3 separate regions of the Homo sapiens genome follow, and all the other regions are linked to region 1. The links come from fine-mapping of genetic effects on gene expression. A gene starts in region 1. Each other region holds a variant in brackets. All regions are shown on one strand. Distances are from middle to middle. Region 1 holds the start of PODN (podocan). Region 2 overlaps SLC1A7 (solute carrier family 1 member 7). Region 3 overlaps SLC1A7 (solute carrier family 1 member 7).

The links. PIP is the estimated chance that this variant, and not a neighbour inherited with it, causes the effect.
Region 2: its variant is fine-mapped to the expression of PODN in lung (TOPMed, PIP above 0.99).
Region 3: its variant is fine-mapped to the expression of PODN in atrial appendage (GTEx, PIP above 0.99).

The regions. Positions count from the first base shown.
Region 1 is chr1:53,057,252-53,067,723 of GRCh38, reverse strand. It overlaps PODN (podocan), which reads right to left and starts at 5,511. Exons shown (of 11, transcript NM_153703.5): 1 at 5,416-5,511. RefSeq lists a silencer at 5,346-5,533.
Region 2 is chr1:53,120,078-53,128,077 of GRCh38, reverse strand. The region is part of intron 2 of SLC1A7 (solute carrier family 1 member 7); the gene reads left to right. Among named protein-coding and RNA genes, the nearest start is that of SLC1A7, 19 kb to the left of the region's middle. RefSeq lists enhancers at 5,359-6,158, 2,695-7,472. The variant T/C (reference allele first, on the strand shown) is at 3,949.
Region 3 is chr1:53,131,648-53,139,647 of GRCh38, reverse strand. It overlaps SLC1A7 (solute carrier family 1 member 7), which reads left to right. Exons shown (of 11, transcript NM_006671.6): 2 at 5,219-5,298. Among named protein-coding and RNA genes, the nearest start is that of SLC1A7, 7.0 kb to the left of the region's middle. The variant T/C (reference allele first, on the strand shown) is at 4,079.

The sequences.
Region 1 (10,472 bases):
GGTGGTCTCAAACTCCTGACCTCAAGTGATCCTCACATCTTTGCCTCCCAAAGTGCTGAGATTACAGGCATGAGTCACTTGGCCTGGACCTTCGTTTGGGCTTTCTGACCCAATCCCAGGCCCACCTCCTCCCAGAAGATGTTGCAGACATCGTAGCCGCCTCTGAGTTCCTGCTGCCCTGTGGTGGCTGTGGGAGTTCAGATACCACTTTGTCTCACTTGGTGGTTCACCCAGTTCTCTGAAGTAAGGGCCTATTTGTGCCTGGGCCTGTACTGGGCACTGGGGACACAGGTGAGGTGGAAAAGATCCCTGTCCTCCATCTGGAGGGGACAACAGACCCCGGTACCAATAACCACTGCCCACCCAGACTGGGGGTGAGGGGGCAGCGTAAAAGGGGTCCCAAGGAGTAGGAGGCCCTAGAGGAGACAGGAGGGGTGGCAGCCAGGCTTGCTTGACCCTACAGATCCACATGGTTGATGGAGACTCAGGTCTCAGCCACTGGCCCGGCAGAGAAACAGGGAGCCCGGCACACCTGCAGCTTCCAGGCTCCAGGGATCAGTCGGCAGCAGCAACTGGCTCCCACAGCAGCCCAGCCCTACGCTCACTCCACCACACCCCTGCTGCCCCTGCCCCTGACCCAACATCAGTCTACAGACCATCATTCCCATAGCACATCATAAACTCCACGGCCAGCTCAACAGCCATTAGCCACTTGCCCATCTGACCCCACTGTAGTCCGGGGTTCTAAGAGCGAGAGTGTGGGCACAGGCCCAGGTCCCAAATTCAATCAGGGCAGAAGGCCAAGGAGAAGAATCCAGGGGAAGGAGCTCTGGTCTCACATATCCTGTGCACATACCAGGCAGGCTGTTCTGCCTCCTCGCCTTCCATTTGGTATCTGTAAAAATCTGTAAACTGCATCAATAAAAATATTGAATTTATATTAACATTCTGCACCGTACTGAAAATGTTATCATCACCACTTTACAACTCAGGGAGCTGAGCCCAATGGGGTCAGCCAGTGAACAGCTGTTAAGTGGCAAAGCTGAGCTCCCAGCCCACGTCATATCAACAATGCTACGCTGCTCTCCCCTAGGCCAAGCATGACAGGAAGCAGGGGACCCAGACAGAAGACTCAGCGTGGCTTCTGCCCTTCAGAGGCCCACAGCTGCACCGTTCACTCCATTAGCCACTGGCCACATGTGGCTACTGGGCACTTGAAATGTGGCTGGTCCACATGGAGATGTAAGTGTAAAATGTAGTGTCCATAGATCTCAAAGATGTCGTACAAAAAAATAATGTAGGATACCTTATTAATATTAATATTAATGACATCAAATCCCATTTATTGTTATATTGATTACATGATAATATTTTGAACAGGTTAAATAAATGTTACCAGTTTCATTTTACTTTTTAAAATGTGGCTTCTGACTAGACAAGGTGGCTCATGCCTGTAAATCCCAGTGTGGGAGGCTGAGACAGGTAGATCACTTGAGCCCAGGAGTTTGAGACCAGCCTGGGCAAGATGGCGAAACTTCGTCTCTCTAAAAAATACAAAAAATTAGCCAGGTGAGATAGCATGCACCTGTAGTCTCAGCTACTCAGGAGGCTGAAGTGGGAGGATCACCTGAGCCCAGGAGGTTGAGGCTGCTGTGAGCCGTGATCGCACCCCTACACTCTAGCCTGGGTAACAGAGTGAGACCGTCTCAAAAAAAAAAAAAAAAAAAAGACCTCTAGAAAATTTTGCATTGCATATGTGGCTTGCATTTGTGGCTCACGTTACATTTCTATTGGACAGTGCTGGTCTGCAGCATTATGTATAAGCTGAGTATTATAATCCCATTCTAAGGGATGACTACCAGGCAAAAGGGAAAGGGTCATACAAGCAAGGGGGTCAATGTGTGCAAAGGCCCAGAGGCAAGACAGTTCACACTCACAAGACTGTCAGGTGGGGGATAGGGACTAGGAGTGATACAAAAAGGCACAGTCGCCACAAGCCCAGGCCACAAAGGAGAGACATGAAGGGCAGGTTAGGGAGTGTGGTCCTTATCACTGGAAGACGAGGACCACTGAAAGGCAGGAGCGTGACACAGGCAGGTTTGTGGGTGGACACGAGGGTGCGCAATTGGGACAGGTGAGGGCTAAGGGGCCTGCCCCTGGCAGAGAGAGAGGTGCTGGACTGCAGGAATGGAGGAAGAGGTAAGAAGGACAGACAGGGCTTGGAGAGTGGTCCCTCCAGCTTCGCCAGCCACTCTCAGGGCTGTGAGGCACTGGGAAGGTCCAGCCCTACTACCTGGTTTGCCGTGTGACCTTGGCCATACCACTGACCCATCTGAGTCTAAATTTTCCAACTTTCTTTTTTTTTTTTGAGACAGGGTCTCCCTCTGTTACCCAGGCTGGACTGCAGTAGCACAATCATGGCTCACTGCAGCCTTGGGCTCCTGGGCTCAGGTGATCCTCCCACCTCAGCCTCCCGAGTAGCTGAAACTACAGGCATGTGCCTCCACACCTGGCATCTGGCTAATTTTTTATTTTTAGAAATGGGGTCTCACTATGTTGCCCAGGCTGTTCTTGAACTTCTGGCCTTCTGCCTCGGCCTCCCAAAGTGCTGGGATTACAGGCATGAGCCACTGTACCCAGCCTTGCTCTTCTAAGAATGGAGCAAGATAAGCCCCCCAAGGCCCCTTCTGTGTACCCAGCCATGTGGGAGGTGTGTGGGGAAGAACAGGGGAGCTCCCTGGTCTCCAGGAGTTTCAAGTCCACCTGGTGAGGAACATCTCAAACCCCTGGACAGCGGGGAAGCTCAGCCAGCAGTGAGTGTTTCTCATATGGAGAGCTTTAGAGACAGAAGGGCATGGGTTCCAATTCTGACTGCTGTGTAAGCCTGGATGAGCCACTTTACTGCTCCGAGCCTCTGTTAACTAGTCTAAGAAATGGAGTTGGGAGCTACTTGTGAGAATTAAATGAAATAGCAGTCTCAGCCTGTCACCGCTGGCATCAAATAGGTGTGACATACCAGGGGTTACTGTTACTGAGAAAGTAAGTGGGACCCACTGTCTCCCCTGACCACTACCAGGGAACCAAACCTCAAGGCCCAAAGTGTGAGGTTAAGGTAGGACTAGAAGAAGGAAGGGAAAGGGAGCCCCAAATCAAGAGGCGGATCCTCAGCCCTCAGCACTACCTTCCTTCTCCACTCAAAGTCAGTACAAATCAACTGACCACCTGCTCTGTGCTGGGCCCCAAACAGCTGCATCTTATTGACTCTAATAGAAATCCTGGGACTACATGTTCGTCTTTCTATTCTGCAGATTTGGAGCTCAAGCACAAAGGGCTGGCATTGCTGCCCATCCCTAGAAAGCTCCTGCTGAAATGCCCCTGCTCAGGGAAGCCTCTCCTGCCCCCTTGGCTGGGTTAGGGTGTTTCTGGGTGCTTCCACAGCAACCTTGGCTGGCTTTATCCTTCAAGTCTCAGCTGGGCCTCCCCTGTCTCCCCAAGCATGGAGTGGGGGTGCTGGGGAAATGTTTGCTGAATGAACGACTTTGTGAAAGGCAGAGTTGGAAAAGATCTAAAGATCTGCAGTATGATCTGCTCTGACTCCCCCAGTTTGCAAATTAGTGTGTTAAAGCCAAGGCCAAGAGTAAAATGTGGGTCTTCTGACTCCTGCCCAGAGCCTTGAGTTGGCCTTGAAGACTGAGCGGGAGTTCTCCAAGTGGACGGAGTGGGAGAAACAGCCCTCCAGGCAGAGGTAGAGTGTGATCAAAAGGTAGGGGTGGGGCTAGAGGAGAGGGACGTGTGTTTAAGGAAGGGTCAACAGGGCGGGAGGCCTGGGTGGCCAAGGGCCTCCACCGCCATGCTAGTGTTGGTGATAGGGACTCATTAAGGGTTCCAAGCAGGACACGGCCAGCACTCGCATGTATGACTACACCAAGCCTAAAAGTGCCACCATTAGTAATCCCCTATCCTAGACTCAGACAGAAGGGATAAAGTGTGCTCCCACAGATGACATGAAAACAGTCGTGTGACTCTGACATTTCTTAACTTGCACTCTAGGCTAGAGTAGACTGGGTCTTGGGCCCTAAGAGTGGACATGAGGGAGCAGAACCCCCAGAGCAGTCCCCCCTGGTCTTTCCCAGGGCAGTCCACGGGCTCTTCTGAGTGACCTACCTCGGAATGCTGTGCGCCTGCAGATCAGCCGGCCTCCTTGCTCACCATGAGCCCTCCTGCCTCGCCGCTGCCTTCCCAGTGTGGAAGGTTTCTATATAAAGGAGGGATAGGGGACGGGACCACCCAGGGGCTCTCCCGGTTCACACCAGTGGCGCCTCGTGGAGCAGGGCAGACCACAGCTTCCCCTTCCCTGGCCAGCCGGTAATCGAAGGGCAGACAGGTCAGTAATTCACTCCAAGCGCTGGGTGAGCATCCTCCGCGCCTCCCGGACCAGCTCAGTCAGTGCCGCGCGCACCGGGGCCGGGGTGCTCGCCCCTTGCTGCCGCGCCTGCTCCTCTCCAAAAGGCTGCGGCTGCCTCTCCTAGCCCCAGCCCCCGAGGCTGCCAGGAGCCTCGCAGCCCCGCCACCACCTCCTCTTCCACCTGACGGAGCGTCAGGTATTCCAACGCCAAGATCTCGTCCCCCGCCCCAGGCCGGGCTGTGGCTCGGGGACCTGGAACCTGGGGCTTCTGCCTCATTCGCAGGAAGGCGCGGATCTCGCTCCTCGCGCTTCGCGGACCCCCACCCCTTCCTCCCTCCAGCTGTCCCGGCTGGGAAGCAGCCGCGTAGACAGATAGACGGACTCCAGACCGCCAGCTGAGACCTTTAGCTCAACTAGTGGTTGGCACTAAGCTGGGGCGGCACAGTGGCCGGGGAAGCCGAGCCCCGGAGGGGACCCACCCGGCGTCCGACGCGCCCTGGGGCCAGACCTCTGCCCCTCTCTGGGCCTCAGTTTCTCTATCTATAAAGAGGTGGAGGTTGGAGTCGCTAGGGGGCCTGATGAGTTGACGTGGAAAGACGCGGGGATACTTCGGGCCCAGGCTCTCATGACAGGGGTCCCCGCCCCTACGCAGTTCCACCTGCCCCCCACATTCCCTGTCGCCCGCCGGCGTCCTCCCACTCCAGCCCCCGCCCCCAACCGCCCTCAGATTCTTTCCAGATGTGCGCAGCGGGAGGGGCCTGGGGACGGGGACCAGCCTCTGCTCAGAGAGGAGAAGGCCCCTGCCTGGGTCCTGACTGCGCAGGGGTCGCACTCCAGAGGAGGAGATCTCCGGCCGTGCCCTGGGTGCAGGGTCCTACAGAGGGGGTGAGATGCGGCGGGCCCGCCCCAGGCAGCTGCTGGAGCCATCCGGAGAGGCGGGGACGTCTGAGTGCGCTGCCCGGGCTCAGCCCCCGGCCCCTCGGCCCACCCCGGCTGCCAGCGCCCTGTACCTGCTGCGCCCCGGCGCCGAGCGGCGCCCCACAGGCCGAACGCGCTCCCCCAGTCTCAGCTGCGCTCCGCGGGCTCGGGCTCCTTCCATTCAAGTCAAGCTGGGCGCTCTCCGCGACGCAAGTTTTGTTGTGGGTTTTCTCCTCCCCGCCTCTCTCCCGCCCCCTTCCCCCACTCCCCACCCGCCCCGGGAGCATCTGCTGGACGCCGGCCTCCTTCGGACACAGGCGTAGGGTCCCCCCAGGCGCGGGCAGGAGAAAGCCTGCCCCTCCCCGCTCGGGACTTGGCCGGTTCCCACTTCCCGGGGAGGCAGAGCCGCCGCACCGACCCCTCTCAGCCCCGGCCGCCGCACCACGCCCCCCGAACCCCCACCCGGGAGACCGGGAAGGCGGGCTGTCTGGTCCGCGACGCTTCCTAGTTCCCAGCCTTCCGCACTGGAACTGGACCCCCTTTAGGCCCCGACACCTGAAAGGAGGGCTGGGGAGAGGGGTCCTTCGACCCAGTGCCTCTGAGCTGTATCTTCCTCATTACAGAGGATGTTGCAACCGCTCCAGGCACGAGTACCTTTCCGTTCACTCTCCCACCCTGGGGTCCTGGGCCGTGGCTAATGGGGCCGCCAGCCAAGACCCTGCTGGGCCTCTTCCCGGAAAAGTTCCCCACGCTCCACCCCACCCTCCACTCCCATCCCTGTTGGCCCTGGGCCCACAGCCTGGTGAGCCTTGAAGAATGGTAAATTGGGCCGGAGTCGGGGACATGCAGATCCCAGTCACAGAGAAACAGGGCGGGTGAACAGTGAGACCTCACACCACCATATTGCTCCCAGGAACTGAAAATGTTTCCAAGTAAAGGAGTATTAACTACTACCAGCTGAAGCAACACTGTTTGGCGCCAGGGGCTTCGGCGGTGGAACAGGCAATGCGGCTGGGCTTAGGTGGTACTTGGCACCTCCACTGTGTAGCAAGCCTCCTCCCCTTACCTGCTCTGGCCTGTGGGCAGGGCATCCACAGCTGCCTCACCTGGCTGTCCTCCCACTGAAGAGGGAGAAGGATGCATAAGTCACACGTGGGACCCCTTGCTCAACCTTAACCTGAATGAATGAATGAATGAATGGCCCCTGTAAAGCAGCTCCAGACTTTTCACTGGCTGCCGCCCCCGTGAGGTTATACCATATGCATTATGCTCTGCTTCACAACTCCGCAAAGGAAGAACTGCTGCTGCCCCACTTTATAGAAAAGAGATGGCCTCAGAAAGGATACTTGACTGAGTAAAATGCCCATTCACTGGCAGAGCTGGGGTTTTGACCCCAGGTTTACCCTTCTCCACAGCCCAAGTTCTTCCCATGATGGAAACAGGCAGGTAACTTGAGCAGGCAAATGTAGAGTCTAGATTTGAACCCAGGACTGTCTGTTTCCATTACACCAACAACCCAAGAACTTAGCAAGAATGGGGAGGGAAAATATTTTGCCTTCTTTGGCCTCAAATTCCAGTCCTTTTGGAGCTCAAACTCACAAGAGTTGGTGTGATTCACAGCATTGGACCTGGACCAACAGAGATGCATCTCGTGTCTTCTCCTGAACATTGAGCCTAGATTCAAGTAGAGCTAAAAGGACAGGATTCTACTAGCTTGAATACTCATGGACTAAAAATCTTTTAGGACAATGAGAGCCAGCACATATTGAGTGCCTAATAAATGACAGGCACCATCCTAAATCCTTAAAATATCTTAATCATCCTAGCCCTGTGGGGAAGATATTCTCTATACTTATAACTGCTAAGGCCAAGGTGTTTCAGGGGCCCGCTACACGGCACACCACACACCCAGTACCCACCACCTCCCAGAGAAATAGGCTTTTCTATGGAATGCTGAGCAAATGCCCATGTGTGCTTTGTGGTTGGCTGCTACTATAGATACAAGCTGCAGGAGGAATCACTTTGAGTGTCTCTGGTGGAAAAATGGAGGCAACCTTGGTGCTCTAGAAGCAAATCCTCTTTCAGAAGGATTGTAAAGGCAGAGTTTGAAATTGAGGTTTCCTGAATCTACTTGTGCTGCTTCAATTCCTTCATGCTGCCCCTCAATTTCAGCTCCTGTTTGATATTACTGAAGTACATAGTGTCAAGTACAAGCTTTAAGCTTGGAGCTGGGTTCAAATCCTAGCTAGGTTCAAATGAATATAAAAATAGTACCTACACTTCACAGTATGTCTAAATTGGAGAATGCAAGTACAGAACTTTACATAGTACCTGTCACATGGTAAGTGCTCAGTAAATGGTAGCTATTACTGCAAAACTATCACCCAGACCTGACCAAATAGCCAGGAAACATTATTAAAATAGAAATGACAAGTGGCAAGAATTAAACAGTAACCTCTGTACTGCCCAGGGAAAGTGCCTTCTAATTCAAAACAATAAGAAACAAGAACACTCCAAAGAGGAGGGAGGAAAGACATACATTGATACGGTAGAGAGAGCTAGGAGTAAAGAACAAGAAGGCTCTCAGTGGGGTTTGATGATGAGAAACAGGAGATGAGGAACAATGAGCTCTTGTTATGCCTCATCATCAAAGAAGAAAATAATTCCTCCTACTTTGAGCTGAGGGCTGAGATCTTATTAAGCAGTAGAGTCCCAAATAGCTATGGCAGCAGCTTGATTTTCTGGACATTTAAGGAATCAAATCACATGGTGGTGTTTGGGGTATATGAATTCCATCTGAAGGACCTTGATGAAGGCAAGACTCTCCAGGGAACAAGAAGAGAATAATGAAAAATCTTCAGTCCAAGTCAAGTACACAAGGAGTCTCCTGGGCTGCTATAACATCTCATACAGACTCTTTATTATTGGAACTTTCTTGCTGTTTTTCCTCTTTCTCCCACTGGATTGTGAGTCCTCCAGGGCAAGAATCTCATGTTCTGCAAGCTCTCCTCTCTCACCCTAAAATACCACTGTGATAGGCAGAATACCCCCCAACCCCGCCCCAAAGATATCCACACCTTAATCCCTAAAACCTTTGGATATGTTACATGATGAAAGTGACTTTGCAGATGTAACTAAGGTTACGGACTTCAAAATAGGGAGCATATTCTGGATTACCCTGGTGGGCCTAATCACATGAGCCCTAAAAAACAGAGAACTTTCTCTAGCTGGAGAGAGAGAAGATGAAGCAGAAGAGGAGGTCAGAGAGATTTGAAACATCAGAAGGACTTGACTAGCTTTAAAGATGAAGAGGGTCATAAGCTAGGGAATAAGGCAGCCTCTAGAAAGTGAAACACCCGTAGGCTGCCAGGAATGGTACAGGGACTTCAGTCCTACAGCGGCATGAAACAGAATTCTGCCAGCATCTGAATGAATGTGGGAGCAGAGCCACCTTCTCCCCTGGAGCCTCTAGATAGGAGCCCAGGGCAGCAATACTTTGACTTCAGCCTTGTGAGACCCAGAGCAAAGAAACCAGTCAAACTCAACCAGACTTCTAGGCTACAGAACCGTTAGATAATAAATTTATGATCACTACTTTGTGATCATTTGTTTCATCAACAATAGAAAATAAAACAAACATGAATAACTAAAACTGGTACACACTTTCCCACACACTGTTTCACTTGATCTTCACAGCAAACATGATGGTATTATTGCCCCATTATTTTGGAAAAGGGGTGCTCAGGGAGGATATGCAACTTGCTCAGGTGACCCAGCTAATGAGTGCTTGAGTCAGAATTCAAACTCAGTCTTCAGGTTCCAACTCCAGTGAGAGTTGTCTCCCACACTGTAGCCAGCCAACTAGCTGTTACCTTAAGCTAAATAAAAATGGATGAAAAAAAGACAAAAAACAAATTCAGACTACTTTCATACTACAAAAACTTGAAGCTTTTGAATTCTCATTTCTTTTGAAGACTGTTTCTTCCAAAGGTATGTCATGTTTCTTCCAAATTAAGTTATGAACCAGTCAGGGTATAAACAAGTAAGCAAAAAGATCTCAAGTCTTCTTTCTAGCATATAGAAGAAAAAAAGATTTTGGTAACTGCAAACGGAGAAACCCTCAAGAGCGGCTGTCAATGAAATACCACTTTCTCCTGTTCAGATGATCTTTCAGCCACTATTAAGGTACATCTCCCACAATGAAATGCCCTGTTTTTGCCTTGTGGGTCTAGAAGCATCTCTGTGGTTGGAGCTTCTAGTCCACTCATGACCGATTTTTATTGTCTGGAAATTCAATGGTATTCAGTCTGAAATTTCTCTTTCTATATTCCTTCCCCTTACTTCTAATAACTAAGCAAAATAATTCCTCTCCCTCTTTGGTCTTTCCATCTCTCGAATATTCGTGAACTGATATCACACCCTGCGTTTGGGTATCATTTTGCCAAGCTTAAGTCTTCTTTCAGCCTGCCTAGTCAATTGTTCCTATACTACTGTGTCTTCGTGTCAAGTTATTTTCTATTTCTGTTCTAATAAAGTGTCTAATCTTGAACAGAGTGCTCTGTACACAACAGAAGGTGCCATATTCTAAAAGGTGAATCACACAACAACTTCCAGAGAGAGAAAAAAAATCACTGTTTGGTAGTTGGTTAGACAACTATCTGCAATTTAAATAAACAGCAGACTACAATTTCCCCCAGTTCTACATAAAAGTTTATGGCCATAAATTCAGAAACAAAAAGGTCAAGCACTTACTACATGCTGCTGGAAACAGTACTGTGAATATTTACAAAGTGTTTAAATGACCATTAATAGAATAGATAGACCAAATGCACATGACTTTTTGCAATAAGCTTTCATTACATTTTTAAAAAATTATTTCCCCTAGAAGTCTGGCTAAAATTCCATACCAAACTAAACTTCCAGCCAAATGGAACAGACTCCACATTTCTTAGGGGCCAGAAATCTGGCCCAATATTCTTTGTTCTTACCAAGAACTAAAGAGCTGTTTGTTCGCAGCAGTCTCCAGATAGATATAATACGAGACTGTTCCAGAAGATTTTGTAACTCTCTATTGAGAAAAACTCTAAAATTTGGCCAGATATGGCTGTGGTTCCTAATAGCTCATAAATCTTTCAGGCCCCTCATTAGC
Region 2 (8,000 bases), 62 kb before region 1:
TATCTCCTGGTTCTCTGTGTGTGTGTCTGTGTGTATTCGTTATCATTGCCGTGTAACAAATTATCACAAACTTAGTGACATAAACACACTTCATGGTTGCCTCAGTCCCTGGGCCAGCAGTCTGGGCGGGCTTGGCTGAGTCCTCTGCTCAGAGTCTTAGGCTGCAATCCAGGTGTCCGCTGGGCTCTGTTCTCATCCGGAGGCCCAACCAGGGAGAATCCGCCTCCATGCTCCCTCAGGCATGGACAGAAGTGATTCCCCATGGCTGCTGCCTGAGGGCCCAGCATTGACAGCTGTGCAGTGGAGCCACTCAGGTTCTAGAGGCTGCCTGCAGCTCCCCACCCAGCTGTCTCCACAGGCAGCTCACAGCATAGCACTGTAGGTCATCAAGGCCAGCAGGAAGCCCGGTCCTCACCAGTCTTCTGAGTCAAAGTCTTCTACCACATAACCACAGGGAGACATCCCACCACCTTGTTGTGTTCTCATAGAAGTCACAGGCACTGCCACACTGCGGGAGGAGGATATACCAGGGCTTGGGTCATCGGGGTGGCCTGAGGGCCTGTCCACCTCCTTCTCTCTCCTGGAACCTTCCTTCTCTCTTCCTCTGTCCCCAGAGCAGCTGGATGTCTTTCAGAAGTCACTTCTGCTCACCTCTCTCCCTGGAGCCGGCTTGGGTTGAGTGGAGCCACTGCTCAGCTTCTGTCCAAGTAGTTCATCAAGAACTTTCTTCTGAATAAGGACTGCTCCCTTACTGTAAAAATAATTCTGAAGAATATAACTCTCCCCCTTTCATCTGATTTCTCACTGCCCCATACAGGGCCTGCTACTGCCTGTGCCTGATCAATACATTTTCAATGAATAAGAAGCAGCAGAGGGCAGCGGCAGCAGAGTTCAGGGAAAGTCTCACCATCAGCATTTGTATGGGCCCTGGAGGACAGTTAGGAGCTGAACTTTAAAGATGTTTTCATATTTTAAAAAATTAGATAAAGCCCTGGCAACATAGTGAGACCCCATCTCTACAAAAAAAAAAAAAAAAAAACTTTTAAAATTAGCCAGGCATGATGGTGGGCACCTGTAGTCCTGGCTACTTGGGAGGCTGAGGTGGGAGGATCGCTTGAGCCCAGAAGGTTGAGCCTGCAGTGAGCCATGTTCATGCCATTGCACTCCAGCCTGGGCAACAAAGCAAGACCTTATCTCATAAAAAAAAAAAATTAGATAAGCAAATTACAAACATTTTGGATAACAGAGAAGAAACCATCCTCTCACTCCACATTGCTAATTCTGCCACTGTGATTTCTTCTCTACAAGGTTTGTTCTTATTCTTACTGGTGAATTCACCAGATGTGAGGTGAGGTCCTTGGCTGATGGGATCAGAAGCCCAACTGTCTGGGCCCCAGAGCTGGTTGGGCCTGTCCCCCGATGCTAGCAAGGGGCAATCAAATATGCCACATACTGATTTATTCATTCCCAGAGATCAAGACACTTGCCAGCAAGGACAGTCATATGCAGGCTCTGGCCAGAGCCTCTCTGTGGGCTTACCATGCAGGGAACCCACTGGTGAAATCTGCTTGCTGGTGGGTACATTTAGTTATTTAACTGTATAACCCGGCGTAACTCCAGGTTTGCGGTTTTCAGTTTATTTCAGCCCTCCCACCACCCCCGCCTTATAGTGGAGTCCCATCATATGTGCATTTAACTTAAGTGAATTCAATTACATGTGCTCTGAAAAAGGGAGAAAATCATTTAAATGAGACAGGAGACTCCTCCTTCCAAGGGCTCTTCCCCAGGTGAGGGCCACGAGAGAGGAGGGCCTGAATTGCCTCCACCAGCCGCTGTGCCCAGGCACCTCCTGAACAGTGAGCACCTCCCTGAAGCCAGAGAGTTTCTAGGGCCTGCAGAGGGGTGGGTGTTTTAGATCACGGCCTCTGAGTGTATGCTGATGCTCTCATCTGGTGTTTGCTTAAAGAAACAGCAACCCACTCCAAGGCTGGAAGGGAAACTGTCTTGAATGAACTTACACAAAACTATACCTCCTGGACTCTATGGGCAACTTAAGAGATTTTCAAAGGCAAAATTAATTACACTTTGTTTTTGCTTTACTGACTTGAAACTGAATACACTGAATATGGTCCTACTCCCCTGTACTAGCAGGAAGCCCAGTGTGTCCCTCTGGAGGCCTCCACCCCGTGGCCACAGTCAGCTTATTTCATTCAGTGGAAGCTTCTGGTGTAAACAGAGCTGGAACATGGGGTCCTGCCACCAGCCCTGCTGCTCTGGTTCCCTCCACGGGGTGGCCCTGTGGAACGCAGGTCCCGCACGCTCTGGTGGAAGTCTGCACACTGCCCCTTGCAGGTGCACAACGCTGCTCAGGCCACAGGGATGCCTCCAGACCCCTAGGTCCCCCCGAAGTGCTCAATAATTGTTCCTAAAGCAGCCTCAGTCATGTCCTGAGATCAGCTCCCCGGGAGTTGAGCCCCAATTCCCTTTTCCCTCCTACTGGGTTCATTTTGGAGGCCTTGAATGCCAGGCCATCTCGGCTGGGGGACTCTAGCGTACCCTGGTGCTAACTTCAAATCACAGGGAACTGGGGCTCAGGTCTTAGTCTTTTTCCTCTCAGAAGGCCCTGATCCTCTGGTGCAAATGGGCACAGTTTTCCATAACTCTGCAGATCTCAAGTTCTCAAGGAGGAGGCATTCATCAAGCCACAACAGCTCCTCCCTTCCCCTGACAGTGCTGCCTTCTCATCCGACATTTGCTGCTCAAAAGATTCTTTGCAAAATAAAATTGCCTGCAGGGGAACTTGCTCTGTCCACCCAGGAACAGAGACGCCTTGGACAAAAATTAGAAAATTCTGCCTCACATTACATTAGTATAGGAACGAATCATCTGGACGGGACCTGCATTGGGGCCCCCCTCCCATGGTTTTGCCCTCCTCAGCCGTCTTCCGTGTGCTGCCACAGTTCACTAACGCCATGCCAATTATATCTTTATTTAGAAAAGTCAAGCCTTCAGGGCCTGGGAGCCTTACTTTCCCATTCTTCCCCGAGCAGGCCACTTGTCACTACCCCAATCCTTTTTGCTTTCAACTTACAGTATAACCCAAAAAGTATCTTCCACAAAAATAAATCTGTAGCCTGCTTGCTTTGGTTTTCCCCCAATGTGATGTCATAAGAATTTCCACGCTGCACCTTCACCTTGGTGATCCTGTTTTACTCACCCACTCGGGAGGCACAGAGTTTGCAAAGTCTTTTGCCTGTCACAAGGCACTTGGGAGGCTGCTAGACTCTTGAGGGAGCTGCCCTGCCTCGGGACTGTGGTCTCACCTCGAGTTCACCCTCTTAGCCTCAGCCATAAAATAGGCACAATGCTGTCTGCTAATTTACAAAGCAGGTCCCGGCAGGTGCTCTGTGTGTGTGTTTGTGTGCCCATGTGTGTTTGTGTGTGTGGCCCATTATGGCCCCATTCCACTGAGGCTAGACTTTGCACCTCACCTTGGGAGGTCAACTGAGCCTTGTTTTCACACATCCCCAGACAAGCTTGACACAAGGAATTAGGGGTAAGTCAGACCAGCATCTGGATCCAGCTAGAGCCTCCAATTCTCCACTTGCTTTTTGCCAAACCCTTCTCTCCCCTCATTCTTCAGTTTCTTAAACCAGGCGTCCTTCAGGGGAAACTGAATCCATGTGTTTGTGATTCACTAGGGCTGTGCATGATAGAGTGTTCTGTGAGCTCCACAACATAGCAAAGACAGCCAAGCGTGGGTGTGGGTTTGTCTGTGAAGCTGTGTTGTGTGTGTGTGTGTGTGTGTGTGTGTGTGTGTGTGTGTGTTGTGTATGTATTGTTTTCCTTCCTATTTCTTGTAAGGACTTTAAACTGATTTTTCTTAGAATCAGGAAATCATGTTTGGCCAGAGAAACTCAACACTCCCTTCTCCCCTTCCTGAGGAAC[T/C]CTAGTGTGGCAGAAAATTCCCAAACACCCACATTCTAACTTATTGGAAATGGGCCTGGGCCAAGCAGCCGTCAAAGTCTGGTTTGGGAGCCAGTGTGCAGGGGGCTGCCCAGACTCCCCAGGACAGGCCGTGAGCAGGAGGAGGCAGAGGAGCGGGTGGCCAGAGGGCCAAACCGGTACAGCCTGTGCTTCGGATGCTGCCCTCCGAGTCAGGGGGTAGCCACAGTTTGGCGAGCTCCACTGAACCTTCTGGTGTGAGCCCTGGGACCTGCCTTTGGCCCTTCTGCCCAGTCAGATGATTTGCCTTACTCATCAAGAGGGGAAACGTGGCCCGCTGTGGGCTGCGGGTGGGGTCAGACCTCCAGCCTGGTGACTCCGAAAAGCTCCCAGGCTTTATCCTGCACCACAGACTTCCATGCTCTCGCTCCCTTCCAGTTAGAGAATTCCTACTTGGCCTTCGAGGCTCCATCCAGCTGTGCCCTCCTCTGGGAGGCCCAGCCCGATGCCCGGAGGGCTGGCCCTGCTCTGGCGCTCAGTCACAGCTACCCCCACCCCCGGGTTGGTGTTGCTCTGCTGCTGGTCTCCCCACCCGCTGGCCAGAGCACCAGGAAGAACACAGACCCACCTCATTCCCTTCTGAGCCCCACAGCACCCAGTGCAAATGTTCAACACCGGGCAGGGTGGGCACATATCTCAGAGCCTGGGAAGGTGGGTGAGGTTTTGAAAACTGTGCTGCCGCCCTTCTCTGTGGAGAACCGCTGCACTGGAGAGAGGCCCACAGGATGGCCCCGCCTGAGCCCTGTGCGGGGCAGACTCCAGGGGCCCTGCTGGTGCAGGGAGGGGAGGCAGGAGACCTGAGTTCCCCTGACTCCTCATGATCTTTGCCACATGGGCAAGGAAGGGGTGGGGGATTCAGTTCACGTGGAGTTGGAAACTGGACCTGGCCCTGACTGCCTTAGGGAATGCAGCCTTCTTGGTGGAGAATGGTTGAGAATGGCCGGCAGTCTGACAGTGAGCTCTGAGGGCTGCAGCTGTGGCTCCTCCAGCTTCTGCTTTTGATCCAGTTCAAGCTTATCATTCTCACAGGTCCCAGTGGAGCGCCCTCTTGGCACCCAGGCCTGGGAAGGAGGGACCTTCAGAGGGCAGCAGGGCATGCCAGGGTAGCAGCACCCACCGCCCACACTCTGAGCCCCACACTCTCTCCCACCTTCCCTCCATGGAAATCAAGGTGGAGGCCAAGAGGTTTGGTCCATGTGGCTCCAGAGGGCTGGCTGGGCCCAGTGTGGCCCAATGCTCTTCCCCGGAGGCGGATTTCATTGTGACACCAGGAAGGACTTCCTAATAAGCATCACGAGCTCTTAGTGGAGGGGCTGACTCAGAAGGTAGTGAGTGCTCTGTCCTCTGAGATATGCAAGCAGAGGTGGTGGAGGAATTTCTGCCCTTGGGAGGGTGTGCTGAGACGAGATGGCCCAGACTTTAGCTGAGTGGGAGTCTGGGCATGCTGCCTTAGGCCTCAGGAGGAGTCGGCTTGAGTGTGGGGCTTTGGCAGAGCCGTCTGGGAAGCATGACTTGGAGCTGGCGCTAATGGGCATGGCACTGGCTGTCAGCTGTTGGGCCTGCCTTCTGCTCAGGGGAAAAGAAGAGTAAGCCATGATGCTCAGATGGACTGAAGGGACCCCTCTTGCCCGCAGACCCCCGAAGCCTCCTTCCTGCGGCCTGTCTGGTAGACTTCCTGCAGCTGCATCCCAGGGCCAGCTGGGGAGAGCCTCTGTGGCTAGGTCAGCCAAGGCCAGAGCCCAAGGACTTGGCTGCAGGGCTTGGGGCTCCTCACTGTCCCTCAGGTCCTCCCACTGCCAGGAGGTTGTGACTGGATGCTGTCATGCCAGCAGACTAGGGCTTGAACCCACTTATTGTGTGACTTTAGCAAGTTGCTTGCACACCTCCAGTGACTGGGAGGTCACCACTTCTCAAGGTAGTTCCTGCCAGAGCAGGACAGCTCTGCCAGAAAGTTATTCCTGGTGCTGAGCTGAGAGCCCTAGGGCTTTTCCCATCATCCCCAGCATTCCCAGGTCTGCTCCGCTCCGGACCACACAGCACCTGCCCCCCAGCCCCCCAGCTGCTCCCCGCAACCAGGCACGTGCCTCTATCACCTGCTGCCTACCCAGCTGCCCTCTACAGGACACACACACCCCGCCCCGTCCCTTTCTCAATGAGTCAAAGCAGGTCTGCAGCAGCCTCCACCAGCCCCCGGGCTTCTGAAGCCACAGGCAGGGGGCCCACCAGCCCTTTGGCAGCCCCGCGTCCCAGGTGACTCACCAGCTGGCAGCAAACAAAGCCCAAAGTCCCCTCCCCACGTGTGCAGCCACGGCTCAGCCTCCCCCTCCCACCCCGGTGTTTGTGCACTCCAAGCTGTGGAAGCCAAGTGCGGCCCAACACATGTCTGTGTTCAGGCTCATTGTGTCAGAATTGACTGCTGGGGTCTGCTTGGATTCCCAACTCCCTCATCCAGCACATTAGCTATTCCTCCCAGCTTCCTGTCCTCTACAAATCTGCTCCACATGCTGTCGGGGGCCTTGGCCAAGCCATTGATTAAAATGACCAGAAAGGAGAGGGCCGAAAGCAGAGTCCTGAAGCTGATCTCTAGACACCCTCTCTACTGCCCAGGACATTCAGCTCCTTGTCCCTTCACCAAGCCCCCATCTCTTCCCAGATTTCTGGTGCCAACTGTCTCGATGTCACACAGACACACAACACCGTGGGCATTCCCCTAAGCCCATCCGGGGACCAAGGCTGGTACTGGTGATCTGTTCTCAGGAAACCTTCAATGGCTGCTCAGTCACCTGGGCACACAAGTCGTCCTTTTCACGTCTGATCTAGAATGTCACCCTGGTTCAGCATCACACACATCAGCAACCCTGCACCCAGGCCTGTGCCAGACCTTGGGTTTTAAGGACCTAGAGCCAAACTAGACTTAGCCTTGCCTTGGAGGAGTTCCAGTCTGCTGGGACAGGTGGTCACAGACAGACAGTGAAGACAGAGGAAATTATAACAATTGAAATGCAGTGCGTACTTATCACATGCCATGTACCACTCCAACCCAAGATTTGGCCTCACAGCAAACCGGCATCATCCGCACTCATCCTCAGTGGAAACTGAGGCACACCCAGGCCCAGTCACATGCCCAAGGGCTCGCAGTGAGTGAGGGATGCTTACGGGAGCTTCCTCGCCTTGCCTAGGGCCAGGGCAGCCTTCAGAGGGCGGTGGTGCCTGAGTGGAGACTTCAGAGCTGAGCAGCATCCACAGGACAGGAAAGGAGAAGAAGGCGGGGACTGGGCTCCCGGCACTCCGTGCCAGCCCGTCCTGTGCCAGGTGCTGGGTCAGGCCCTGGGGATTCGGGTTGAGCCCACTAGCAGGGTGCTCCGTAACAAACTGGGAAGCACAGGGTGCCCTGGGGAAGTGGGTGAGATGGCTGCAGTCAGGGAAGGCTTCCCAGAGGCAGTGATGTCTAAGCTGACCCAGGGTTGGGGACATTGGGCCAGGGTTGGGGAAGGGATGGTGGATGGAGAGTTCCAGGCGGGAGGAACATCCAGTGCAAAGGTACTTCCAGGAGCAGAGTGGACGAGGAGGAGAGCGGCCCAGCCCCAGGGGACGCAGGGCAGGGAAGGAGCTGGGATGGTTGCGGAGGGCAATGGGGAGTCACCCCAAACTGGGGGAGGGGCATCCGGCAGCTGGGCAGCCTGCAGGCTCTCTTGGCTCTCTCTGTAGGGAGGTGCGACTACAACTTCGACTTCGTGGGGGCGTGGTTTCTAATCCCTCACCTTTGTAACCAGCGCTTGGCAAATGGCAGAGCTGCCCTGCACCTCCCAGTGTGAGATGGGGTCAGGAGTCCCACCTCAGGGGTTGGTGCGAGAACCAGGGGAGGGTCAGTCAGCAGCCTTTTTCTCCTTCCACCGGGAGCCTGGCAGTCTTTGCCTCCCTTCCCCCACCCCTGCAAGTGGAGCAATTACCAGATTGAGACAGGCTGGGCCTTCCCACTGCCTCTGCGGGTTAAT
Region 3 (8,000 bases), 73 kb before region 1:
TGCAGACTCCAGAACGTAACAGAGCAAGATGCTGCACTAGGCAGGGTGAGGCTGGGGTTGAAAGCCTGGGCATGGTTTGGAGTTTTGTAACCAGAGCAGTTAGACCCCTAGGGACCTTCCAATTCAGTTGGGGGACTCATCCACCCATCTCCACCCACTGCCTGCCCCAAGGAACCAGAGAAGCTGGACTTGAGGGTATTGGGCCACCCCTGTGTGTGTTGGGGAGAGGGCCATGCTGAGGCACCTACTTCAAACTAATTAACAGACATCCTTGTCTGAGTGGGGTCCCCAGCACGGTTTCAGATCGCTGTCAGCTGAGCTTAGGCACCATGTCATTCCTCAGCCAAAGGCAGGAAGAGACTTCTCTCACTGAGGCCTCAGAGAAAAGATCTCTAAATTCTGCTATAAAGGAGACTCCTCTACCATCCCACCCAGCCCCAGTGAAAAAGCCAGATCAGCACCTGTCACCCTGCCCTGAGGGCCGTCAGTTGACAAACCCTACTCATACATGCAGAAGTTTAGCGCTTCAAACTTACATACGAGCAGAAAGCCACGCCACCAGAAATGTGAGGAGGCTCCTAATGTGAAACAGAGTAAACGAAGAGAAAAGGGGGTCTCTAATGAGAGAAACAAAGAGAAAAGTGGGTCTCTAGTGAAGCAGAGACAAGGCGGGGAGGAGAAGGAAGCTTTGTAAATCTCCTCTTAAGCTTTCTGGAGCTGCGAGTGAAGATATAGTTACCGTACAACAGAGGGGATGTGAAAAGAAGGAACAATCAGAGAACAAGAAAGAATCTGGGGAAATTAAAAATAGAAGAACTAAGATAAAAATGTGAGTAGCTGCCCAACACATAGAAAGGATAAATACTCGAAGTGTTGGAGACCCTGAATACCCTGATTTGAACATTACACAGTGTATTTAACAATATACCAACTGTATCCCATAAATATGTACAAATATTATATATTAATATAAAAACTTTGGCTAGGCCTGGTGGCTCATGCCTGTAATCCTAGCACTTTGGGAGGCCAAGGCGGGTGGATTGCCTGACCCCAGGCATTCAGGGCCAGCCTGGGCAACATGGTGTGAGACCCCATCTCCAAAAAAAAAAAAAAAATTAATGTCAATAACTGGGATAAAGTTGTAGAAATCTCCCAGAAACTAGAACAAAAATAAATGAAAATAGAAAAAGAAAATATAAGAAAATTAGAATGTTCAATGTCCAGCTACCTAATGACACTTTTAGAGACAGCTAACAGAAGAAAAATAGAGGAGAAACAGTTTGCAGAGAATCTAAGCAGTTTCTCAGAAGTGAAAGGCAAGCATAGCACTGTCAATTTTGTTTACAAAAGAAAGAAAACCCCATACTATGGCCCATCACCATGAAATTACCAAAAAGTGGAGATAAACTGATGATCTTTGGATGGTTCTGGTGGAATAAAACCAACCTCATCTAAGGAACAGGAAATCAGAATGGCTTTGAACATCTTAAGCAAACTGGAAGCTAGAAGACAAGGGAGAAACACCTTCTAAACCTGAGGGGAAATTATTTCCAACGAAGTATCTCACACATGGCCAGGCTAATATCAGAGGTAAAGGTAGAATAAAGGCATTTTTACTCATGTAAGGACTCAGAAAAGTTTATCTCCCATCCACTCTTTCTCAGAAAGCTACCAAAGGAGATGTTTCAGCAAAACAAGGAAGTAAACCAAGAGGACAAAGGATCCCAGAAACAGGGGGCCCTCTAAAGGACAAGTCCCAGAATGACAACCAAGAAGGAAACCATGACAAGCACTGGGCCTAGAGAGCAGTCAGTCCAAACTGGAGCAGGAAGGTGGAAAGCTCACAGACCAAGGCCCCAGGCAGGATAAAAGAGAACTGATGTGCTTGAGAGAGCAGAAAATACTATTGTTAGGTAGTTTAGTAGACATGTTAAAATGTTTGGAAGAAATTAGTGGGTGATTCCCAGAAAACAAGACAAATAAAAATCAGTCAATTAACTTTAGGCTACAAGCAAGGAGACATGGTTGTAGTACATTACTTGGCTCAATGGTAAACACTGTTTGGCGATCAAAACATTGTAAATCTTGATTTACTAAAAAATTGATATAAATATAATGCTGAAATAGGTGGAGAGAAAGGGAGTAAGAACTAACTCCTCATCAATCATGGCAGGGAAATTGATAGATGTCAAAATGATGAATCAAGAAATAGCATTATGACCATATTATCTAGAAATAGTGATACTATGGGAAACAGCTAGAAGAACTGAGCATGTTCACTACTGGGAAGTTGCAAGATAGGGATAGAGAGAGGTGAGGCAAGAGCTGCCTTTTTATCAGTAGAGCACTTTTTTTTTTTTGGAGATAGCGTCTCCCTCTGTTGCCCAGGCTGGAGTGCAGTGGTGCGATCTTAGCTCACTGCAATCCCCGCCTCCTGGGTTCAAGCGAATCTTGTGCTTCAGCCTCCTGAGTAGCTGGGACTACAGGCATGCACCACCATGCCCAGCTAATTTTTGTATTTTTAGTAGAGATGGGGTTTTGCCATGTTGGCTGGGCTGGTCTCGAACTCTTAACCTCAAGTGATCCACCTACCTTGGCCTCCCAAAGTGCTGGGATTACAGGCATAAGCCACTGAGCCTGGCTATTAGAGCACTTTTAACTTAAAGAATATATACATGTGGGTGCCAGTGCAGTGGCTCACACCTATAATCCCAGCACTTTGGGAGGCCTAGCTGGGAGGACTGTTTGAGTCCAGGAGTTTGAGACTAGTCTGGGCAACATAGTGAGACACTGTCTCTACAAAAAATACAAAAATTAGCTGGGCTTGGTGGCATACATCTGTGGTCTCAGCTACTCGGGAGCCTGAGGTGTGAAGATTACTTGAGCCCAGGAGGTGGAGGTTGCAGTGAGCTGAAATCATGCCACTGCCCTCCTGCCTGGGTAACAGAATGAGACCTTGTCTCAAAAAAAAAAAAAAAAAATATATATATATATAATATATATATGTTTTTATATATTATATATGTTTATATATATTATATATGTTTATATATTATATATGTTTATATATTATATATGTTTATATATATGTTTATATATATTATATATATGTTTATATAAATATATGGACTAAAGTTAATTAAAAATATATTGTTGGCAGGGCATGGTGGCTCACGCCTGTAATCCAAGCACTTTGGGAGGCCGAGGCGGGCGGATCAACAAGGTCAGGAGATTAAGACCATCCTGGCAAACATGGTGAAACCCCATCTCTACTAAAATACACAAATTTAGCCGGGCATAGTGGCGCGCACCTGTAGTCCCAGCTACTTGGGAGGGTGAGGCAGGGGGATTGGTTGAACCTGGGAGGCGGAGGTTGCAGTGAGCCGAGATGGCACCACTGCACTGCACTCCAGCCTGGTGACAGAGCAAGACTCTGTCTAAAAAATATATATATATAATATATAATTATATATATTATTTTATATATATATATATAGAGAGAGAGAGAGTCATGATGGGCATATTTCTTTAAAAAGCAGATTTTCTGGTGCATTGGAAATGTTAGCAGTCCTGGTCCTGTGCTGCGGTTAACATTGGGTGGGTCTGTCACCTCCCTTTTGCGGTTCAGCTTCCTCATCTATCACATGAGTGGGCTGGGCTAGAAGATCTCAAGAGTCCCCTCATAGCACCAACATTTGATGATTTGGAGATTTTTAAAGCATCAGATCATCAACCGAGTATGTTTGGCTTTGGTTAAAAAAAAATAGTTGCAAGTACAACAATTCAACTTGGATGATGTTTGAAAGTCCATTTGCCTGCCTCGCCCACAACCTCACCCTCTGAAGAAAGTGGCCCCATGCCAGGGTTGCCAGAAGTAGCAGAACTGAATTAAGTTAAAAAATTTTATAAACAGCACACCCAGTTAAACTGGAGTTTCAGATAAACAGCATTTTTTTTTTTTAGTATAAGAATGAACTATATGTTGTTATCTGAAAGTCTGATTTAACTGGGCTTAGCAGCCCTTCTGCTTCAGTTGTCAGGTCCTGGTCACGTGACTGTTACTTGCGAGACAGCTTAT[T/C]GGGCAAGGAGTTGGCGCCTTAGTCAGAGATCCGTGGACAGGCTGGAGCCAGCGGCCTAGGAAGGGGTCAGGCGTAAGAACTCTGCCAAAGGGGGCTGTTTCTACCGCGTGGTGTTGCACCCATTCAATCTGATCCTCTCTCTCTCAGCATTTTCGAGGAGAAGCACTAGAGAATGGACCCAAAACAGATGGAGAAACTGACTCGCAAGGCGGCCATGGTCTGCTTAGGAGTGGGTCTCCTCACCAGCTAGGCTGGGAACTTCTCAGGACAGGAACCCTGCCTAGTTCATGTTGGGGTACCCACTGTGATGCGTGGCACGATGCGGGTTGAATGAATGCATGAACAGTACTCGGCTCTGTCCTCTGGTCACCTGCCATCTGCTACACGAGAGAGATTTTATTCCATGGCTAGGCAGATGCGTGGTGCAGATGGAGGAGAGCTGTTATTTTCAGGATTACCAAACATTGGCTGTCATCCAGGCGCTGTGCTAAGTGCTTGCGTGCATTCTCCCGTTTAAGCCCCCCAATGACCCTGTGAGGCAGAGCAGTCCCCCCTTATCCGCCATTTCGCTTTCTGTGATTTCAGTTACCGATGGTCTGAAAAATGGGTGAGAACAGTACTGGAAGATATTTTAAGAGAGACCACATTCACATAACTTTTATTACAGTATATTCTAATCGCTCCATTTGATTATTAGTTACTGTTAATCTCTTACTGTGTCTAATTTATGAATTACATTTTATCGTAGGTATGTACATATAGGAAAAAAACAACGTCCACAGGGTTCAGTCTCTGTGGTTTCAGGCATCCACTGGCGGTCTCGGAACCTGTCCGCTGAGAATAAGTAGGGACTACTGTAGTTATTACCCTCATGTTACAGATGAGAAAAATACAAAACTCAGAGTGGTCACAGAAGATGCTTAAGGCCACACAGCTTGTGGGGGATTGGTGGAGGCGGGGTGTTTACCAGGATTGGAACCCAGTTCTGTGGCTCCAAAGCCAGTTCTTTCTCCATGGTCTCTGCTGCCATGTGCTAGACAGGGGAGTCAGATGGGATAGTGCTTCAAAGACTGTGAAGAACGGAACCACTGTGCAGTCTGCATCTCTTGCTATAACCCCAGTTCTTACTGTGTTTTCAGGAAATTAGTTACTTCCAGTTCCCTGGAGAGCTCCTGATGAGGATGCTGAAGATGATGATCCTGCCACTGGTGGTCTCCAGGTGAGAGCGGGGGTTTGACCAGGTGGTCCGGAACCAGGAGGGTAGAGGATGGCTTCTGTTGCTGCCCTGCTCCTGCTGTGGGTGGCTGGAGAGCAACCACAGGCCCTGGGATGAGTGTGACCGTGGGGCCTTTATGGGCAGTGCCGTGGGCTGCCGGCTTCTGAGTCATTCAGTGGCCCCAGTTGTTGGTTCCATCCAGTAGAATTTTTAGTGGATAGAACAGGTGATTTGGAATCAACGGATATGACCCGACTCCAAGATAGCTCAAGGCCAGGGAGTTGAGGGTTGGCTTCCCAGAGGAGGGGCTGTTCATGGTAATGCAGCAAGGCCTGGGGAAAAGAGAACTAACTCTGAGGATACTCCAGTGATCACAGCCTGGCTTGGCTGTGTAACCTTGGACATATTACCTCACCTCTCTACGCCTCAGTTTCCTCATCTGTAAAATGGGAATAACAACACCTACTTCGAAGGGTTGTCATGAAGACTATATGTTGTGTATGCTGAGCACTCAGGAGGTTGGGACTTGGGGACAAGGGCGGGATGGTGCGAGATGAATTTGGACGGTGAGCTCTTGCCCAATCATGAACGACCTTGAACACCAGGCTGAAGAATTCAGACCTTACCCAGTAGGGTGCGGGCCATGGAAATCATGGGAGATCACTTGGTCCCTTTCACTGATGTGCTAGGTGAACTTGAGCAACCCTATCCCTGTCCAGGTCTTGAGTATTCCAGATGTATAATGAGTGGCTGCTCCAGGTGGTGTCTAAGAGCCTTTTGCTCTGAGGCCATGAGAAATCTTCATCTTCCAGGACTCCTCTGCAGAGAGGAAAGAGGATGAGCCTCTGCATGCGTTCTGCCTCCCAGCCTCCCTGCTGCTGAGCAGTGAGCCAGCTCCTTGGACCTCCCCCCTTTGTGAAGTGGAGATAATCCCCAGGCCAAGGGCGCTTTGTATTTTCTGCACAGAGGCCTTTGCAAGCAGCATTTAAATTTCTCAGGACTCAGCCTTCAAGGCTCTGCTGAAATGCTACCTCCCTCAGGAAGCCTTCCCTGACTCCTCAACTCACTCTAGTGACTGTCTCCTCTTTCTGCATCTTTGGAGTCATTCACTGAGCCTGTGAATCTGTCAGGGTCAGCAGTCCTCTGTGTTGCTGAATCTGTACGACACGTCCAGTTCTTCCACACGGCCTCTCCACAGCCATGGGTGCAGCTGATTACTCTTGCCCTCATGAAATGCCCTTCCCTATGGACTCACACTCTTCTAACTTTTTGCCTGCTTTCTGCCCCTCCATCTTGGTCTCTCTCCTTCTACTCAACCTCCAAATGTTCAGCTTCTCCAGCCTTTTCTCATCTAATTTCATAGCTTTAACATACCACCTACAAGCCCAATGCCCCCAGATGGAGATCTCCCCAGACCTCTCCTGTGAGCTCCATACTTCATTAACCAACTGCCTATTTGACATCTCCACTTGGATGTTTCACAAACGTTTCAAGTTTTGTTTTGTTTGAGATAGGATCTTGCCCTGTCGCCCAGGCTAGAGTGCAGTGGCACAATCTCAGCTCACTGCAGCCTCGGCTTCCTGGGTTCAAGTGATCCTCCTACCTCAGCCCCCCAAGTAGCTGGGACCACAGGCACACACCACCACACCTAATTATTTTTTGTATTTTTTGTAGAGGCGGGGTCTCACCATGTTGCCCAGGCTGGTCTCAAACTCCTGAGCTCCAGCAATCCACCTGCCTCAGCCTCCCAAAGTGCGGGAATTATAGGCATGAGCCACCGTGCCCAGCCACACTTCAAGTTTAATGTCACCAACTTGAAGTTCCACCCAGAAAACTGCCTCCTTTTCCTGTTTTCTTCTTGTCTGCAAATGGCAGCTCCATCACCCAGGTCTTCCATCGGGCCTGTCATTGGCTATCCTCTTTCTCTCAACCCCACAGCCCCATCCACAGTTCCAGTGGATTCTGCCTACTCAGTCGAAGAATGGAGCTTCCTCCCAACCCTACAGGCCCGGGCACTCTCTTCTCACGTCCAGACTCCACCGCCACCTCACTGGTCTCCTCGCCTCACTTCTTGTCCCCGTCCCATCTATTCCACCCAGTGGCCAGAAGGATCTTGAGAAAAGCAGATTGGGCCCTGCCCCTCATTTACCTTCAACAGCTTCCATGACATGTAGAATCAACCTGCAGACCATTAACCTGGTCTAGGAGGCCCTGCATGATCTGCCTCGCCCACCCCACCTCATCCCATGTCACATACTCCAGTCCCACCAGCCTCAAGTTCCCTAAGCAGACCAAGCCCTTACCATCTCAGGGCCTCCACACGTGCTGTTCCTTCCTCTGGAACATGCTTCCCCAACATCTTACATCTCTTCTTCTTCCTCTTTTTTTCCATCTCAACTTGCACATCATCTTCTTAGGAAGGCCCTCCCCACCAACCCCTTCATGCCACCCTGGCTCTCCCTTACTGTACCCTGTTCCCTCCCGGCCACAGCACATATCATATGTTGTCATTCTATATGCATTCACTTGTTAACTGGTTTCTTTATCCACTGGGCTGTAAGCTTTGCAAAGTTAACGAGGCTACTCTGCCTAGATTCAACTCTGTGTTGTCAGCACCTAGCCAAGTGCCAGGCACATAGTAGGTGCTCATTAATACTGGTCAAGTGAATTAATTAATGGATCCTGCAATCATGCATTGTGCTTTC